Homo sapiens: one gene and its partner. The protein of the gene in region 1 interacts with the protein of each later gene in a pairwise test. Each region holds a gene or a part of one and is shown on either strand. Other genes may lie near its edges.

Region 1 (7,083 bases):
TCACGAGGTCAAGAGTTCGAGGCCAGCCTGGCCAACATGGTGAAACCCCGTCTCTACTAAAAATACAAAAATTAGGCGGGTGTGGGGCCGGCGCCTGTAGTCCCAGCTACTCGAGAGGATGAGGCAGGAGAACTGCTTGAACCCGGGAGACGGAGGTTGCAGCGAGCCTAGATTGTGCCATTGCACTGCAGCCTGGGTGACAAGAGCAAGACTGTCTCAAAAAAATTTAAAAAAGAAAGTGAAAGTCCCACAGAGAAAACCCCAGACCAGAGAACAGTAATAGTGGGTTAAATAGAAAACTCTATTCCAGAATTTTCTCTGTGCATATTGTACATTATTACTATTTTATTGTTGCCAAAATGGAATTATTGTTGTTTGGGCACCTAACAGTGTGTCCCTGACATCCGTCCATGGCAGTGTTCATATGACTCTGCCTTCTTGGTGCCTGCTGCATGACATTCCGTCGTGTGGTAATTTATTAACAGTCTTTGCTCATGGACACTTAGATGATTTCCAGTTATCGGGTTTTTGTTACAGGTACCCACGGACCACGCATCTTTACAGAGTTGGACGAATAACTTTAGAAGGCTGACTACTGAAGGCTGATTTGTGAGGGTATCAAGTCACATGCAAGGTACAGTTTTAGGAGATTCTTACAAGTGGTGCCCCCAAATTCTAGACCCATTTCTAGGAGGTCAGGGTCACTCCGACCCCTACCCCCAGCTGGCTTCCAGGCCCTGGCCCCAGGCTCCCCTCTGCCTTCCATGGGCCTCAGCTTCCCAGACCATAAATGAGTTGGGTTGATGGTCTGTTGTACCTTTGAGCCTGTGACTCCTGGTGCACTGGGACCAGCTCCTACCTGCTCACAGGAACAGACGGATACGTTTCCAGGAGTTTTTCCAACTGGCTGTTACATAGCTATTACTATATATTTTTAAAAGGTCATGAATGTCCAAACTCATTTCTTTCTAATCGTTTTACACCCCTGACTGTCATCTCTGCTCTCGGTGTGATCTGCGCCTGCAGAGACTCTGGAGAACCAACCGCCAGGTGCTACCGGGCACTGATTCCCAGCTCCAAACTTGGTGAGTTGGTGGCTTGAAGTCAGCCGGGTGGGAGTACTTACGCTGTGAAAATCCACAAACGCTACAAATTGAGCTCCCCACCCCGTTGTTAATTATTCAGCAGCATATCACTGCCTTTGATCCTTTAAAACCAGGCCCTAAATGTCTGCATGGACCTTTCTCTAACGACCAAGAGGAAGAGAGTGTTACTGCAGCGACAAATACGAGAGAGGGAGATCTTGGAGCTCAGGTAGGGGCTCCGTCTTAGCCATGTGAACTTGGCAGGTTAGAGCCTCCCTTTTCTCTTCTGTAAAATGGGGATGATGATGGCAGCCATCTTGCAGGGTCGTTGTGAGCCGCATTAAGAGGGTTCGCCCTATCACACCTTACTAGGAGCAAACATTTAGGGAGCCGCAGGCCGGGAGTCAAATCCCTGCTAAGTCACTTAATATGTCTGAGACTCAGTTTCCTGTCAATCAGGTGGTGGGCAGAGCTTTAGAGACCCAGAATCAGGGACTCTAAAATGCCATCAGGTGGGGAGGTGGGGAGAAGTTGGCTGCCCCACCGCTGTTTTCCTTCCCCTTCCTCCCCACACTCTCAGCTCATTTCTGCCCCTCTTCCCCCAAATCTGTCAGGAAGCCCCTGGATGCACAGGTGGGTCAAAGGATGTCCACAGGACCGGCCAGCGGCTTGAGGTGGCCGAGGGATAGGGAGTGGGACATGGGGCTGGGGGTCCCTTGCTCCTCACCGCCCCTCCTCTGGTCAGTTTCAGAAAGCAGCAGAGGCCATGACCCCTTGGAAGAGCCCCCAGGCCAAGGAGCCCCACAGAACCCCTAACCTGGCCTGCACCCACTCCTGCACCCTTTCTGGGGATCAGGGAGGTAGGAGGGAGGCAGGGCAGGGCCCTGCAGCCTTGGCCTGTTCAAAGGGTTTGAGGAGCTGCCCAAAGGCCCTGGGGAAGGTGAGCTGGAGGAACTTAAAGCTAAAAATAAAACAACACAGAAGTGGCCAGTCTGCCAGAGCCCTCTCTGCAATGATCCCTCACCACCCACCTCCTCAGCAGCTCTGAGAGGGAAGTCTGTTCTCTTCCCCACTTCGCTCAGAGGCCCGAAGGCAGTCCCCCAGGATCACACCACAAGGAAGTGCCTATGTGAGATTTGAACCCAGAGACGGTGCTCAGAGCCCAGGCTGTGGGCCCTCCTTCCCATCCATTCCTCATGGGGAAACTCAAGGCCCAGAGAGGCCAGGAAACTCTCCCGTCGCTGCACAGCATTCTGGGACCTAGGCTTCCCGGGGAGTAATGGAACGCAGCTGGGTGAGCAGACGCCAGAGACCAGGGTTAAAGTGAAAGAGTCAGCCCAGTTTGCCCGAGGCTTTCTTTCAACACTGAAAGTCCTGCATAACCATTTAGTTCCAGCAAACTGGGAGGGTTGGTGACCCTCCAGAGCCCCAAGGATGGCTCTGCTGGGCGTGAGCTCAGGATACAGGAAGGAGGCCGGGAATACTTGGGGCCTGGTCCGTGCACCGGAGGCCGAGTCTCCCCACCCTGGGTCCCTGGACACCTACTTGTGGGGCTGAGGCTGCAGCTGGCCAGCAGCAGGGCAACAGCCAGAGGGAGCGTGCCGCGGTCCATGCTGTCCACGTGGGGGCCTGTGCGCTGGGCCTTATCCTGTGTCCAGTGGCAGGGCTGCGGGCGGGCACCGGGGCCGGCGTGGGCTCGCACGGGGACCCGAGGGGAGCAGGCGGCCGGAGCGACGGCGTCCCTGCTCCAGCCTTCTGGGGTGGCGGCCGAGGGGTCAGGAGAAGTGGACACAGGGACGCGGGGCTGGGCTGGAGTTGCTGTCCGAAGGATGGGCGGGGAGGGGGTGCTGGGCTCCAATGGATGGCAGTGACAGCAGCAGTCCTGGCCCCAGGGCGCAGATGAAGGCTGTGGTATGACCGGCAGCAGGGAGCTCCTGGCTCATCCAGCCCGGCCGGCCCAGGGAGGCAGGAAATGCGCTTCCTTAGAGAAGGGGCTGGGCCAGGCCGCCTGCCAACCGGGTAGAGGAAGTGCCACGGGCTTTGTCACTGGGTGGGGGGCCCTGGGATGGGGGGAGGCAGTGGGGTGGGAGGGCCCAGGCTCTAGGCTTGTCTCCCCAAGCACCCCACCCTCCCATCCCACCCTCTCCAAGGCTGGTGGGTGGGACGCATCAGGGAGCCCCACAGATGAAAACAATCACCCTAACAGCCCACCGAGGGGAACTTTCAGGGGGCCGGTCTTGGCTAAAGTAGTTCCTGTAGAATTTGTGACCCACCTGAGCTCACTGATCCCATTTTGCAGATGAGGAAACAGAAATCCGATGTGTTGAGATCACTGGTTCAAGAAGATGGTAGCGCTGGGATCCTGCCCACCTCCACCACTTCACGTCTTGTCGGGCATCAAACCCGGCCTACTAAGTGCAGTTGACATGGGGCTGCCTAACAGGCAGGAAAACTGAAGCTCAGGCTAGGGAGGGAAGTCCCAAAGTGGCACAGCAAGGCGGCTAGGGCTGGCGTCTCTGGGCTCAGAGGAGCTGCCCAGGGCCACACACTTCACGTCTGACCCCTTCATGGGTGGAAAATCCTTCACCGACAAAACACAGCTCCAGGCCGAGTGTAGTGGCTCAAGCCTATAATCCCAGCACTTTGAGAGGCCGAGGCAGACGGATCACTTGAGGTCAGGAGTTCGAGACCAGCCTGACCAACATGGTGAAAACCCATCTCTACTAAAAATACAAAAGTTAGCTGGGCATGATGACGTGCGCCTGTAGTCCCAGCTACTTGGGAGGCTGAGGCTAGAGAATCACTTGAACCTAGGAGGCGGAGGTTGCAGTGAGCTGAGATCAGACCACTGCACTCCTGGCCTAGGTGACAGAGTGAGGCTCGGTCTCAAAAAAAAGAAAAGAAAAAAAAAAAGAAGACAGCTCCAAATTATGGGGACTTTAATGGCACTTCTGAAGTCACGTGGCCCTGGGTTCAAATCCGATTCTGCTTGCTCCTAGCCATGAGACCTTGGACAAGGCCCCTCAATTCTCAGCACCCCCTGTTTGCAAAGTGGGGCACGATGCCTTCCTGACCAAGCCATTATGAGATTTCTGAGGGTCAGGACACTACAGCACTGAGCCCTGGGACATACAGGAGATGCTTCCCCATCAGTGCTCCCTGAGCTGGGTGACAGTCCCCAAACTGTCCCATGTTCATTCTGCAAACAGTAAGCGCACCTACTATGTACCCACCGTGGGACTACTCACAGGTAGCACCCAGGGCCAGGCCCATGAAAGCTCAGAGAAGGAATCCTGGGCCACCTGGAGGGCCTGGTATTTAGGCCTGCCCTTTGAAAGACTGGGTGAGTTGGGATTGGGGAGAAGAAGGGGTGAGGAAAGCATGCCAGGCAGGGGTGCCAGACTAAGCAAAGGCACAGAAGCAGGAAACAGTCGGACCACCGTGAGACCAGCAGGGGTGTGGTGGGGACAGGAAGCTGGAGAGGCAGAGTCTGGCCCTGCATTGGGAGGGCCTCAAATGCCAGGACTTTGTCCTTAGGGCCACTGGGAGTCATGGAGAGTTCTTGAGCAGAAGGACGCTGGCAGAGCTAGGCTTTGAGAGGCCAAATCTTTGTGTGTGCTGGCAGGACCCACGGTGAGATGGAGCCAGAAGGTTCTTCTCCCTGGATCCACCTGCCCTGGGTCACAGGTGGAGAAATTGAGGCCCAGGGAGGGAGGAGAAGGCTGAGGCCCTGGGTGCCTCTGGAGGGAGGATGTCTGTCCAGGGTCTGAGGCCTTGCCTCTCCGTGCTTATTGGCCGGCCCGGGTGACAAGAGTAGGCCGTGTGTTTGTCTCTGCAGGAGCTGTCACAGCGGCTGGGAGGGTCGGTGTGGCTCTTTGGGTGGGGATTAGGGATAGTTTTGCTTGCCCAGCCTTGTGGCTGCCTGGCCAGTTTGCAGCCAAGCGTGGCTTTGAGGTCAAGGGAGAGTGTCCTCTCCCAGAGGGCCACCCTGAGAAGGGCATCTCCTCTGCCTTTTCCTGTAACCTCGGAGACAAGGCCATGGGCACTGCGAGGCAAAGGGTGGCTCGGTGGGGGTTCAGGGGTGGCTCTGAGGTTTCCACAGGCCCCAGACCGAGATCTGTGCCCCAGGGACAGTTAATCCAGCCCTAGGAGCTGAGCGCTCTCTCTGCACCAGGGCCCGCCCTAGGCGTTCACCTTATCAGCTCTGAATCCTCACAGCCACCCCAGGAGGTGGGTACCGTTATACCTCCACTTTACAGAGGAGGAACCCCAGCTGGAGGGTGGTGACCCCAGGGCTGCCTGGGTCCAAGCTCACCTCCTTCCCTGCCACCATCCCCTGAGCTGAGTTTGGAGTGAGGGACAGATGTGGCAGGGGCTGCAGGTATCACAGGGTGTTGGGGGCATCTGGGGCAGTGACAGGGACCCCACAGGAGGCTCTTCCCAAAACTCCCTCCCTCCCCTTCCCTCCACGCTGCACAGTCTGTCCCCATCCACGTTGTAAACAAGACCCAATGGATTCTCTAGAAAGTAGGAGAGACTCCAGATGGACTCCAGGAAGAACTGGGGCCCCGACCCCAGACACCTCATGGAGGAAGGAAGAGATTGGGACCACCGCGGGTGGGGGGTGAAGCGGAAGTCACCTCTGGCTCCCACAGCATCCTGACCTTCCCTGTCACACCTAAGCCTGTGTGCAGCCATCTGCATGTATCTCTCTACTTGATTAGAAGCCCCATGAAGGCAGAGACTTTGACACCCTTTGCACTGCTGTGTCCCCAGCACAGAGCCCAGGGCCTTTCAGCTCTTGAGATGGATTTGCTGAAAGCATGAGGGACCCTAGAAGTCAAGGCAGGGGTGGGGGTCATGGAGGCCCAGAGAAGTGGGCCTTGTCATTGGTTCCCAGGAGAAAAGGCCAGTCCTGGACTGGGTCTCCTGCCCGAGGAAGCCTGGTGGCCACATGGCCTCCCTGCTGGGCACAGGCCTTGGGGTAGCTGTCTTCTACATCCCCCAGCTGCACTCTCCCTCTTGTGGGACACATCCACTTCCCCACCCCTGCAGAGGTCAGAGGAGGCAGGAGGAGGAGGGTCCGTCTTCCAGCCCCTTCCCTGCAGGGTCACTGCATACTGGTGGCCTCCCTCCACTGAAGGCCACGGTCCTGTTGGGGACCCCCTCCACCCAGCTCTGTCCAGCTGTGGACTCAGCTCCTCCCCTGGCCTCTTCAGGCTGAGGGTGGTCACAGCCCACGCCGCTGCCAGCCCTGGGGTTCTGCACCGTCCCTTGGGGCTTCCCTACACCCCGACCACACCTGTGTAAACAGACCCTTCACCAAACTCTCCTCTAATGATCCTACTGGAACGTGCCATCTGTTTCCTGCCGGGGCTTTGACTGATACGGATGTGTTCAGGTGCCGTCTGTCCACACGCCCGAGAGACGCGTGGCTGATGGCCAGGCCCCTGTGCCTGGACCCCACAGAGGGCAGATGCACACTTTCTGCTCTTTCTTCCTCCTGGCTGGCCAGGAAGGCCAGGGCTGCAGGAAAAGACAGAGCACGTCCACCCTGGCCACTGGCCACTGAAGGAATTTCAGGCGGCCCCCAGGGACCCACCAGGCGGCTGACTGTCTCCAGCACTGGCCTGGAGCCAGGGGCCATTGATAACAGCAGGGCCAGACCCACAGGGCGGAGCAGGGTGCCCAGGCTCTGCCCTACACTGGCCAGGTGGCATCAGGCAGGATCTTTGTTTGTTTGAGACAGAGTCTCACTCTGTCACCCAGGCTGGAGTGCAGTGGCATGATCTTGGCTCACTGCAACTTCCGCTTCCTGGGTTCAAGCAATTCTCCTGCCTCAGCCTCCCGAGTAGCTGGGAACATGCACCATCACACCCGGCTAATTTTTGTACTTTTAGTAGAGACGGGATTTCACCATGTTGCCCAGGCTGGTCTTGAACTCCTGACCTCAAGTGATCCACCCGCCTTACCCTCCCAAAGTGCTGGGATTACAGGC
Region 2 (12,057 bases), on another chromosome or scaffold:
CACTCCAGCTCAAGGGAGAGAATGCTGGGAGTGCCAATGCCTTAGTCTCATTCTGATTCAGTGGGGCAGAGATCTCAGGGGATTGGCCTTGGGAGAGGATATGGGGTTTCTGGGTCCATCAGAGGAGGTCCTCCTGCTCTGGGTCTGACCTACCACCATGCTGGTCAACTCCAGTATGAAAAACCCTTGCTTCTCCTTAGACCCTGCACCTCCTTTCCTCTTCCCATTCTTTCTCCTCCTGGGTGGACTCAGAGACTAAACAAGAGCCATCATCAGGCATGGTCGATTGGTTTTAGAGACCCCTTTGCGCTCAGCTGTTGTCCACCCTGCCACACTGCCCCAGGGACTCTGGGTTAGGAAGATCTCAGAAGAGGGGTTGCTTAAGCTTACCAAGGGGAAGCAGCTGGCTAGAGGACGGGGTGACCTTGCAGGCAGCTGGGGTGGGGGGAAGGTGTGTGGGGTGAATTCATTATTGATGAGCCCTGCACCCCGGGCTACTAATGAGCCCAGGCCGGCTGCTCTAATTGATGTCAAGAAACTTGAGACCCCCAGATCAGCTTCCCGCCTGCCAGCTGCCTCTCCTGAGCCCCCTCCCCCTCCCTGCACCCCCAGCTGCTCTGTTCACTTCCTAAGGCCTCCTTTCCTTCTCCTTTTCATCTCCACCAACACAGACAAGGATAGGGCTCAGGCCTTCTAGCCCCCCTACACTTAAATTCGTCTGGATTATTCAAGTCTCAAGGTGGGAGCCACACTTCCTTCGGAGGGTTGGGAGATTTGGGAGAAGAAACTTAGACCAGGAGTCTGAGAATTAGAGCTCAGGGAAAGAGAGGCTCATACTAGATTACATCTGTGGCATTTCTGAGCTCAAGGAATTTCTTCCTTATATTGTGCATCCACGGGTAAGAACTTGTCACTCTCTCAAAAGTACAGGCCCTACACAGTGACACACCCATGACACCAGCCCAATTTTCACAGCCCACTTCCCTTCCTTATTTCCTCCTCACAACAGTGGAAGACATTTTAGGTCTGGCCCCTGGAGTTTGGCTGCTTCTACCCCCACCTCTCTCCCAAGAAGGGGACTCCTCTTAATGTATCAGGTATGGGATTTCCTCCCTCTAGAATTTCTGGTGCCTTGTTATGCCACGGCTGCCATTCTTAGAAATGCTAGGGGGTTCTTTGTCTCATCCTGTCTCTTCTACCCCATCAGCCCCTTTTCATTTGTGGGTTCTGTGAAGACATTCCTGACTCAGAGCATTCTAAGAAGTCACAGACTGGAGTGTGGTCCAGGGTTGGTCTCCCAGGAGGGATATTTTTAGGTGATGCAGGCCCTGCTAGGCAGAAGCCTGAGTTAATGAGAATAGTCCTGGTGATGGGGGAAGAGGGTGAGGTGGACCTCATACCCTACCTTCCCAAATTTCCCATAAATTTGTGGCTATGCTGCCCTCTGGTGGCTGAATTTTAGTCTATCCTGACAGGGACATCTTTGTCTCCAACAACCGCAATTGCTCTCCCTCTTGCTGCCCGTTAGGACAGGCCTTGAGGAGAAAAGAGAACCCTGAGGGTCCCTCACTTTGCGAGATTTATCTTCAAAGATCTGAACCCTGTGGCATGTTGGTTAAGAATTCGGGCTTTCCCAGCCAGATAAGGCTGAGTTTCACTCTGTTCTGCCACTCACTGTGTGACTTTGCACAAGTTATGTAACCTCTCTGGGCCTCAGTTTCTCTTTGTGTAAATGGGATAAATAGTACCAACCTCACAGAACTCTGTGAGAAATTAAATGTGATAATGTATGCAAACTAACACCCCCTACCAGCACACAGTAGCAATGAAAACAAAGCAATACAAAAACCTAACTGGGCTTTCTTCTAATTTAGTTCCGTGGCTTTTTCCTCTCAACTCATTTCATTATTCTGATTTAGGGAAGCCTGGTAAATTTTCTGAACCATCCTCCCCCACCTCCACCTTGGACCTCCCCCTTTGCATTCTGCTCTAATCCTCAAACCCAAAGAGAAGAGGTTCCTTTCCCTTCTCCCTTGGGAGTGTTGGGGACCAGGTCTGATGGGGGATGAGGGAGGGGCAGAGGAGTCAAGCCCTGCTTTCTCTCCTTCCATCACCTCTTTCACCTAAGAAGGGAGCCTAGAACTAGTTTCACAGTTTCTGGGGGGTCATACTTCTGGCTCCTAGTGGAAAGAAGCCATGAGAGAAATAGGCATCTGCTTTCCACCAAGTCGCTTGGTTCCAGGATGGGTTTGGAAAGAGTAACATGAGATCACAGATTCTAGTTCTGGTCAGTGGGGGCACTGGGTCAGATTTATTGCACTTGCAACAGAGTTTAAATAAGTCCTGGGTGTCTGGTGCCAAGGTGAGGGAAGGGTTGGGCAGAGAGATGAGGGGCAGCATCAGTGCAGCTGGCAGGCAGAACCCAAATTCTGCAGGCCCAGGACAGTGGGCTCCCCTTTCTCTGGGGAACAGGGAGGGCCTGTGTCTGGCCAGGCTGAGGTTCCAGATCTGTTGCCATCATGGCCCCTTCAGGGTCCTGGGAAATTCCTGGCTTCTCCTAAATCAGGGTGAACTGGGCCTCCAGGATCAGGTCTGGAGCAGGCCCAAATATAGTCCTGGATCTGCCTGGATTAGGTGCCAATGTCTGAGTCTGGGTTCCAGATCAACTCCAGACCCCAGGCTGGATCTGGCCCCATTTGAGTTCTGATTCCCCTTGGAGCTGGGCTCTGGGCCCTGGGCCAGCATCTATCCTTGTGTGGCATCTGTCCTGAGCTGGTCCTGGGGCACCATGCATAGTTAGTGTTCTTTGTTGGCCCACCAGGGTGGGGCTGTCCAGAGCTGCCAGGTCTTAACTCCCCAAGTTCCAGGTTCTTAGCTGGGGGCTTCTTTTGGATCTCTGGCAAGGCTGAGGACAGATCTTTGCAGGTTGGAGCTGGACAGGAAGTCCTTGTGGCATGTCTGGCCCAAAGAACTGTGAATGGATTTCCTAGTTATCTTTCCAAGTTGTTTCAGGAAACTCTCCAAAATGCAAAGGCTTCAGGGAGGCTGGGGCCTCTGTCCCTGGATCTGAGTTCCCCCATCCATGAAGAGGGTATGTGTAAACAAGGGTCCTTCACAGTGCATGGGGGGGAGGGATCCCCAGCTCCTCACCCCCCTGGCTCTGGCCCTTCAAGTATGTCTCTGGGCTGGGGAGAGGAGCTTCTCCCTGGCCGTCAGCACCTTCAAGAAGTACCCAGACCCCTCCTTTTCAGTAGAATGAGGGTGGGGGGACTGGTTCTTCAGGAATGGGAGTCTGAAATTGGGAGGACTCAGGCATCAGAGGTGGCTGGAGGCTTGAGCTGAGCTTTTTCCATGGCGGTGCCATATGGGAGGGAGCGTTTGAAGAATCCAAGCTGATAAAGGGGAAAAGAGGGAGAGTTTAGGTACTATGGCTGCCATTTCTCCACAGCTCTTATTCCAAGAAGTAATAAGGAGGACTCTAGTGCCTCCAACCTCTACATCCTGCAAAAGTGGCCTCTGAATTCAGGCTAGGACTACCCCTCTAAGTTGTGCAATGGACCCAGGAGGACCAAACTTGGGGGTGATTTTGTATGGGGGGTATCTTTTACCAGTGCCTTTAAAATTCCCCAGTTAAGCCAGAAATGGCAGATAGGTTTGAACTCAAATGCCAAGTCTGATTGCTTAGTAGTGGCTGCTTCTGTTTGTTTGTTTGTTTTTGAGACAGGGTCTCACTCTGTTGACCAGCCTGGAGTGCAGTGGCATGATCATGGCTCACTGTAGCCTCAAACTCCTGGGCTCAAGCGATCCTCCCACCTCAGCCTCCAGAGTAGCTGGGACTATAGGCACGCACCACCAAACCTGGCTAATCTTTGTGTTTTTTTTGTAGAGACAAGGTCCTAGTGTGTTACCCAGGCTGGTCTTGAATTCCTGGGCTCAAGCTGTCTTCCCACCCTGGCCTCCCAAAATGTTGGGATTACAGGTGTGAGCCACCACACCTGGCCATGGCTGCCTCTTGAGAGAGATTCTGAAGCCACTTCTAGGAGATGATCAGTAGCCATTTCTAGGTTAGTGATGGCTGCCATGGATTTTTGGAGAAATTGACAGCACAAATGCCACGTATTTGTCATCTTTGGGTTCCAATGATTTTGCAAGTATAGGCAAACTTATCATCTTGAGTCAAGAGGACCCTTTCTAAGCTAGGGGCTATAGAATGAAGGGGGGGATCTTATAGGAAGGGTTAGGATGGGATGCATGTAGCCAGGACAGAGGTGGGGGCACATGGCTGGTGAACTGGTCTAGAGGTAGATACTTGGGACTGTGCCAGGTCAAGGGCAGAGCCTGATGAGAGGGTGGCCAAGTCACAAGCAGGATGTGGCTGACCTTGTAGAGGATGTAGATGAGTAGACCTAGGAGCAGGAGGCCAAACAGGATGGCTAGGATGATGATCCACAGTGGGACGCCATAGCTGCCTTCTGCCTTGGTCCATTGCACAGCTGTGGCCACCTGGGGAGCAAGTTGGGTGAAGTCAATGAAAGCTCAGAAGTTCTTTCTACCCTATACTTGGCCCCCACTTGTCATTGGATCTGCAGAGCCCAGTGGGCTCCCCTTTCTCTGGGGAACAGGGAGGGCCTGTGTCTGGCCAGGCTGAGGTTCCAGATCTGTTGCCATCATGGCCCCTTCAGGGTCCTGGGAAATTCCTGGCTTCTCCTAAATCAGGGTGAACTGGGCCTCCAGGATCAGGTCTGGAGCAGGCCCAAATATAGTCCTGGATCTGCCTGGATTAGGTGCCAATGTCTGAGTCTGGGTTCCAGATCAACTCCACCTCTTATTTTGAACTAACAGCATTCTGAACTTAAAAATTGAAGTTCCTAAAATGTACAATATTGTCTCTTACTTTCGGGCTTTCATATCATATCCATTTTTTTTTTTTTTTGACAGAGTCTCACTCTGTCACTCAGGCTGGAGTGCAGTGGTGTGATCTCAGCTTACTACAACCTCTGCATCCTGGTCTCAAGCGATCCTCCTGCCTCAGCCTCCCGAGTAGCTGGGACCACAGATATGCGCCACCACATCTGGCTAATTTTTGTATTTTTTGTAGAGACAGGATCTCACTATGTTGCCCAGGTTGATCTTGAACTTCTGAGCTCAAGCAATCCACTTGCCTTGGCCTTCCAAAGTGCTGGGATTACAGGTGTGAGCCACTGCGCTCAGCCTCATATCTGTTATTCACCTCTCCCCAGGATATCCCTTTCCTGAATGGCTAGCCTGGTTAGTTCCTATTTATTCTTCAGGTCTCAGCTTGAACATCACTTCTTCCAGGAAGCCTTCCCTGACCCAGTTAGACTGGGTTCAGGTGTTCCTATTATGTGTTTTCATAAATATCACCACACTTGGAACACTGTGTTGTTCCACGAGACTGTGAACACCAGGAGCAAAGATACCATGTTGATCTTGCTTACCACTCTGTCTCTGGCATCTGCACAGTGCTTGGCACATAGTACATTCTCAACAGTTGTTAACAATACCAAGGCCAGCCCTCACCCAAGTCCCAGCCCTGTTCCAGCACTCTGAGCCCTGTATTCCCTCATCCAGTCCTCTGGCCCTAGACTCACCTGACGCTCTTTTTGGGGCAGCTGCCGAGGCAGGATTCGGTAGGGCATCTTCAGGGCTTTGTACACAGCCTCACACTGCAGGCTAAATGGCTGGTGCTCCCGCTGTGGGTAGGGGAAAGTTGGTTAGCACATCCTCTCTTGGGATCCAGAGGACATAGGGTTCCCCATCGTCTGGCTGGGGTTGTGATCTTTCCCTATTTTGGGCTCATTCTTCCTGAGTCTCTCTCTCTCTCTCTCTCTTTTTTTTTTTTTTTTTTTTTTGAGACTAGGTCTCACTCTGTCCCCCAGGCTGGAGTGCAGTGGTGTGGGCTTAGGTCACTGCAACCTCCACCTCCTGGGCTCAAGCAATCCTCCTGCCTCAGCCTCCCAAGTAGCTGAGACTACAGGCATGTGCCATCATGCCCAGCTAATTTTTGTTTTGTTTTGTTTTTGTAGAAGTGGAGTTTTGCCATGTTGCCCAGGCTGGTCTCAAACTTCTGGGCTCAAGGGATCCGCCAACCTTGGCCTCCCAAAGTGCTGGGATTACTGGTGTGAGCCACTGTGCCTGGCCCGTGAGCTTCTCTTGATGTTCCTTATATGAGATAATAAATGTGTAACTGAATAATTGTAACTTGATAATATATAATTAGATGACTACGTGTTCAATAAAAATTTTTTTAAAATTATTAATGTGCTTTGACACCAGGACAGTGCCTAGCCTGCAGTGTGTGCTCAAGAAGTGACTGCTCTTTACTATTCCTACATGTGTTTACCTCTCCACTATGGATTCATCTTCCATCTTACTGTTTTTCTATCATTCTTTGCACACTGGTCTCCCTCCAGCCCTCCCTCCTCTGAATGGGCCAGGAAAGGGAAGCTGCTGCTCCCACTGTGGCCACTAGATGGCGCCAAGGACATACAGCCTGGTCTAGACAAGGGCAAGGAAGGGGAGCTGGAGTGCTGGGTCCCATTCACCAAAGGAGAGGTGGCTACTGCAGTGGAGAAAGGGGTGGGTCAGTCTAAGCAGGCCCAAAGGTCAGGGGTCAGGGCTGAGGTAAGGCTCCCTCACCTGCAAGAAAGTCTTGGCCCAGACTCGGAAATGCAACTGCAGACTTTGGCTCTCTTGTTGGTGCAGGGGCCCGAGCTCACAGCGCAGCCTGAAACACTCAGCCTCCGGGCATTTCTAGGAAGAAAGAAGCTTGAACCTGGTGTTCTGCCCTTGTGATGGCCCTGAGAACCCCAGAGTACTCAACACTTTGGTCCACACCTCATTCCCTGCCTGACTTACCAGGATCTGAGGTCCCGAGGAAGCAGAGCTGCGGCTTGGAGCTTCCCGTTTTTGCTGGTGGTGCAGGGAACCCTCGGGATCCAACTATAAAAGAAAGTGTTGGGCCCCTTTCCCATCTCATTACAGCTTCTAAGTCAGCTTGCACCTGGGTTCCAGAGCAGCTTCAACCTATTCTTTCATCTATCTCTTTATTGATTCATCCAACTGTCCACCTCCTATGCGCAAGGCACTGAGCTCAGGGTTAAAATATGGAAATGAGGAAAACTTGGTTCTTGGAGATCACACTGGAGGAGATGCTTAAGTAAATAATTAGGTCTGTGTTCCTGTTTTTGCACTGGATGTTCCCTTGGTTTGGAATGCTCATCCCTGAGTCTTATAGACAGGTTCAACCTTATCTTTCAGGCCTCAGTTCAGCTGTGACGTCTTCAAGAGGTTTTTCTATGATCCAATTTAAATAGTGTCCCTACAGCTTATTAACTCTTCACTTCATCACCTTTCAATCCCTGTTAATTTTTCTCCTTCTCTTTTTCTTTTCTATGTCTATCACCCTTCACTAGAATGTAAGTTCCATGAACGTGGAGACCTTGTCAGTTCTGTTTGGTGCAATATTTCCTGGGCCTAACAGTGTTCAGTACAGTCACTTATTTAATTAGATGTTAATGAGTAAATGAACTATAAAACAGGCATTCGGGCCCAGAGGAAAAGGTTTGAAGAAGGCTTCCTAGAGGAGGTGGCACATAACTGGGCCCTAGGGGTATGCCGGGAAACAAAGAAGGGATAGTTCAGGCAGAAAGAAACACAGTGGATGAAAGTCCTTTTTCCTCCAGAGGATTTTGAGGTAACTTTGGGCCTTGTGACCCTCAACCCTAGCTATAGGCACATCCTCATTGCCTCTTGCAGGCCCCCAGCAACCTTCCCCAACCCCTCAGCCTTGGTCCTCTGAATCTGCTCCTCTTCCCCATGCCAGTGTTCAGGATCTCACCTCCAGGCCCTTTGGGTTAATGGGGTGATTGGTGGTGCAGTTGAGTCCCGTAACTCTGGTCACATATAGGAGCTGCTGACCTTCCAGAGCCTGGGGACAGCTGAGTTCCAGCACACCCTGGCTAATGGAGCTGGGGCCTTGGTTGATGAGCTGAGGAGGGAAGAGCACAATCATCATGAGAAGGAAGGGAATGCTTCTGCCCCATTGAGACCCTGGATCACCATGGCTCCACTATACCCTGCTGTCAGGCTCCTATCTCAGAGATGAAGCAGGGAAGCAATGGGCAGAGGTGAAATCCTCTCTAGCCAACACTTTTGGAGGGGGCTCCATCTTTCTTTCCAAGCCACTCAATTGGCCTGTCTCTCCTCTGGCTGTTTCTCACAGGACTCTGCCTCATGCCTTTGCATATCACTTACTCCTCCCTCCTCTCTTTCTCTCAGTCCCTCACATGGGTTCCAGCCATCTGTCACTCATATTAGCTCCTCCTTTCCCATCATTCATTCTGGCCCTGCCCCTTCCCCCCTTACCTCATAGACATGGTGGACAGCAGGTCCCAGGTCCTCCTCCTTCTGAGGCTGGTCTCGGGGATGCCAGTCGCTTACTGGGAATAGCACTGCCTCAGGCTTGGAGACACTAAGGAGGAGGGTGGTTTAGAGGAGGGTGGAAGGAACCCCATATGCATCCTTCCCTAGAAGTCTGTGTCCCCTCTCAGAAAGACCCCATTTTGCCTGGCACTGACCCGTTCAGGGTGACCTGGGCCTGAGCCTCCACGGAGAGCCGAAAGGAAACCACGTCGCTTTGCGAGTTGTTGAGATTCTTGCTGTGGGATGGAGGCAAGACTGAGGTGCTGGAGTGCAGCCAGTGAGAATGGCGCCCAGCCCTCCCTTCCGTCCCCAGCTCAGCCCCAGCCTAGACACACTCACTCCCTACCTGAGGATCTGGAAGTCAAACTGGATGGTTTTCTTAGTGTCCCGGAGATGAGGGACTGTAAACCGAAGGCCACCCCACAGCTGGGGACAGAAAAAGAGGAAAAGAGGGCAGTTAGACTGTGTATTTCACCCTCCCTCCGCACCTCACAGCTGTGCTCTCGGCTGGCTGGTTACCGCCCTCAGGTCTGCTCTCCCTCTGTCCCATCCTCTTTCATCCCAAACTTACACTGGCTCCTGCCTTCATGGGGTTGCCCAGGTCACACACCAGCAGGCGGCTCTGGTTCACGGCAAAGTAGTCACAGCTCAGGCTGGAGAAGTTCTGGAGATGGGGTGGGCACTGGTCAGGTTTTGGTGTCCCCTCTAGAGGGGTATCCTCCCAAATCCCACTCGAGAGTCTCATCTCACCCCTGGGTGTCTGACGAGTCCTGAGTACTCAGCCTCTGGAGGGGCGGTGACCCGAAGCTCAGCCTCATAGGCGCCACCCTCACCCACATTCTGGGCATGGAAAGTGAGGTTCAGGGCATTCTTGTCACCCAGGTACACATGGTTCTGCTCCCTGGAAGGGACACAGAGGGTAAGGGACATTGGTGAATTAATCCTCAAACCAGGACAAAGGACCATTATAAGAGTAGTAATACGAGGCCGGGTGTGGTGGCTCACACCTGTAATCCCAGCACTTTGGGAGGCTGAGGCGGGTGGATCACGAGGTCAGGAGTTCAAGACAAGCCTGGCCAAGATGATGAAACCCTGTCTCTACTAAAAATAATAATAAAAAAATTAGCCCGGCATGGTGGCAGGCACCTGTAATCCCAGCTACTTGGGACGCTGAGGCAGAGAATCGCTTGAACCTGGGAGGCGGAGGTTGCAGTGAGCCGAGATTGCGCCACTGCACTCCAGCCTGGGTGACAAGGGCATGACTCCGTCTCAAAAAAAAAAAAAGAGTAATAATAAAGTAACAATAGACACTGCTTACTGAGTTCTAACTCTATGGCAGGCACTAGGCTAGATTTTTTATGTAGATTATTTCATTTAATCTTTCCAAAAAGTCTGAGAAATAAATGCTACTATTCCCACTATACAGACAAAGGAGTTAAAGCTCAGAGCAGCTCAGCAACTTCCCAAGGCGACACAGCTAGTATGTCCCTAGCTGATTTTTTCAGGTGCCAGGTGCACCTGGAGCTCCCTAGCTTACCGTCAGCCCTACTTACCCAAACACTTCCAGCTGCAGGTCAGGCACACAGATGTTGTCTTCTCCACAGTCCAGCAAGATCTGAGCCTGGGGAGCAGGGCAGCCTTGAGAGGGGAAGTTTAGACCCATTCCTGGGCTGTAGGCTCTTCTCTTTCCATGGCCCTGCCCCCCCAATACCCAGGCCTCTGTCTTCCCAGGTCCCTTCTCCCTGCCCTGTCCTCACCTTGTCCTCTATCCGGCTCTTGCTCTGATAATGTAGGGCTGGCCTGAGGCCGTGGCTGTCCACTGGGGCTTGGGGGTCCAAGGAGAAGTTGAGAGCGATGTGAATCGGCGAGAGTTTGTCTCGAAATTCTGACTCGTTCTGGGGCCAGAGGAGAGAGTTCACGGAGTCAGGGGACTCTGGAGACTTAGTGGCCCTGCTCCTCAGCCTCTCTCATCTCCCTTTGTCTGCTTAGGGCCCAATTCCGACCATCCTCATTGTTTCAGAGGCCCTGGCAGCCTGCTTCCCAGCTCCTCTGACAGAAGGTCTCCCTTTCTCAGCCCCTACAAGAGTCCCAAGCCCTTCACTGGAGTCCCCCAGTCTTTTTCCCTTCAGGAGGTGCCCTCAGTTCTGTGTGGCCACCCTCCCTGGCCAGTCCACACCCCGCCCTCTGGGCCATACCCTGAGGTAGATCTTCATCTCTCTGCAATCCTCTCGAGCCCCATTCTGGATGAGCAGGGTCTGGGTCAGGGTTGCCTGCCTGGAGGCCAGGAACAGTGCCCGCCGTACCCCTCCCTTCTGCTTCTGCCAGTCCAGCTGAAGTTCCACTGTGAAACCTGAAGCCAGGGACATATAAAGGGAAACTGCCTGTCTTTCCTCATCTTTTCAGAGAGAAGAAATGTCCCCAGGTCCCCAGTCCCTTCATTCTCTGTCCTAGGGCCTGAGAGATCCAGGCAGTCTCCCTCACCAATGGAGTCAGCAACGTGTTTTCCAGAAGCATTGAGGCAGAAGCTAAGGTTGATGCTGGAGAGAGACCAAGAAGAAAGCTGGTGAATCCAACTGGAACAGACATCCTATCCTCTACCTATCTCCCAGCCAGACCCAGACTAGGACACCACCATTTTCCCCTTTTTAAGGCAGACTTGGTGCCCCTGCCCACTCCCAGGCTCAGGTCTCTGCAATTTCCTGGGCACCAGCTCACCAGGCCACAGGGTTCCCCTCTAAGCTGCAGCTCCGCTCCTCTGGGTTGAACATGGCGGGGAAGATGGTGAGGGAGGCACTAGCGGACACGATGGGGCGGCCCCTGCCAAGAGTGAATGTGGGGTCAATAGAATTAGGACTCCTCTGTAACCTGGACACAGGAAACTGATGCCCAAGCGCCAGAATGTGTGTCCTCTGCATTGATTTTCCCAACCTCAGCTCTGTTGAGAAATTTCCAGTTCCAGTCCACCCAGGTTGTCCCCTCATCTCCCTTTGGAGCTCATACCTGTATACCACAGCCTTGTCCACACCAAAGGACCCCACAATCAGATCTGTAAGAAGTCAAGAAATCACCTCTTACAGCAAGCCCCAGATCAGGATCCTTTCTTCCTAACCCCTCCTGGTTTCAACGCTCAGGGAGGTTGAAGTGAGAAGACAGCGCCCTCTGTTGGAATTAGCCAGAACTGCACCCAGGAACTTAAGGAAAGGTGCAGAAGAGAGAGTAGGGGTCAGTGACCAGGGAATTTTAAGGTGAAAAGGGGCCTCAGGCACAACTCACCAGGATATCCATTGCCATCCAGGTCTCGGCCTCCTCGAAGGGCAGAGCCAAAGAAGTCTGGGGTGTGGCTGGCTGCCCACAGGGGCTGCAGAACCTGGGAAGGCTTAGAGCCCAGCCCTCCTGGGCCCCCAGGAAATACAAACACTACTCCCTGCTGGGTCTCCCCACCAAAGGGAGCCCCGATGGCCACATCTGGAAGACACAGAACACACACTAGTCAGCAGGCCAGGAATCCATGGGCTCTAATCTCTACTACCAGACCCCAGGACCTAGGATCCTATTTTTTCCCATCTGTCAGTCCCTATATTCTAATCTTCAAATCCCAAGACCCAGACAGTG

The links.
Region 2: the proteins of ENG (region 1) and ITGA5 interact in binary tests that used the Homo sapiens proteins (3 or more experiments, as listed by UniProt).

Annotation. Positions count from the first base shown.
Region 1 is NC_000009.12:127,851,659-127,858,741, forward strand, and holds the start of ENG (endoglin isoform 1 precursor), read right to left. Parts: upstream 3,001-7,083; 5' UTR 2,698-3,000; coding exon 2,631-2,697; intron 1,293-2,630; exon of another isoform or gene 1,220-1,292; intron 1,086-1,219; exon of another isoform or gene 1,027-1,085; intron 635-1,026; exon of another isoform or gene 545-634; intron 1-544. UniProt on the Homo sapiens protein: Vascular endothelium glycoprotein that plays an important role in the regulation of angiogenesis. Required for normal structure and integrity of adult vasculature. Regulates the migration of vascular endothelial cells.
Region 2 is NC_000012.12:54,392,985-54,405,041, forward strand, and holds the end of ITGA5 (integrin alpha-5 precursor), read right to left. Parts: intron 11,911-12,057; coding exon 11,719-11,910; intron 11,590-11,718; exon of another isoform or gene 11,514-11,589; intron 11,492-11,513; coding exon 11,446-11,491; intron 11,263-11,445; coding exon 11,161-11,262; intron 10,983-11,160; coding exon 10,927-10,982; intron 10,796-10,926; coding exon 10,641-10,795; intron 10,341-10,640; coding exon 10,203-10,340; intron 10,067-10,202; coding exon 9,999-10,066; intron 9,347-9,998; coding exon 9,196-9,346; intron 9,110-9,195; coding exon 9,017-9,109; intron 8,872-9,016; coding exon 8,792-8,871; intron 8,682-8,791; coding exon 8,601-8,681; intron 8,495-8,600; coding exon 8,389-8,494; intron 8,012-8,388; coding exon 7,862-8,011; intron 6,964-7,861; coding exon 6,880-6,963; intron 6,775-6,879; coding exon 6,661-6,774; intron 5,715-6,660; coding exon 5,613-5,714; intron 4,504-5,612; coding exon 4,381-4,503; intron 3,393-4,380; coding exon 3,309-3,392; 3' UTR 2,277-3,308; downstream 1-2,276.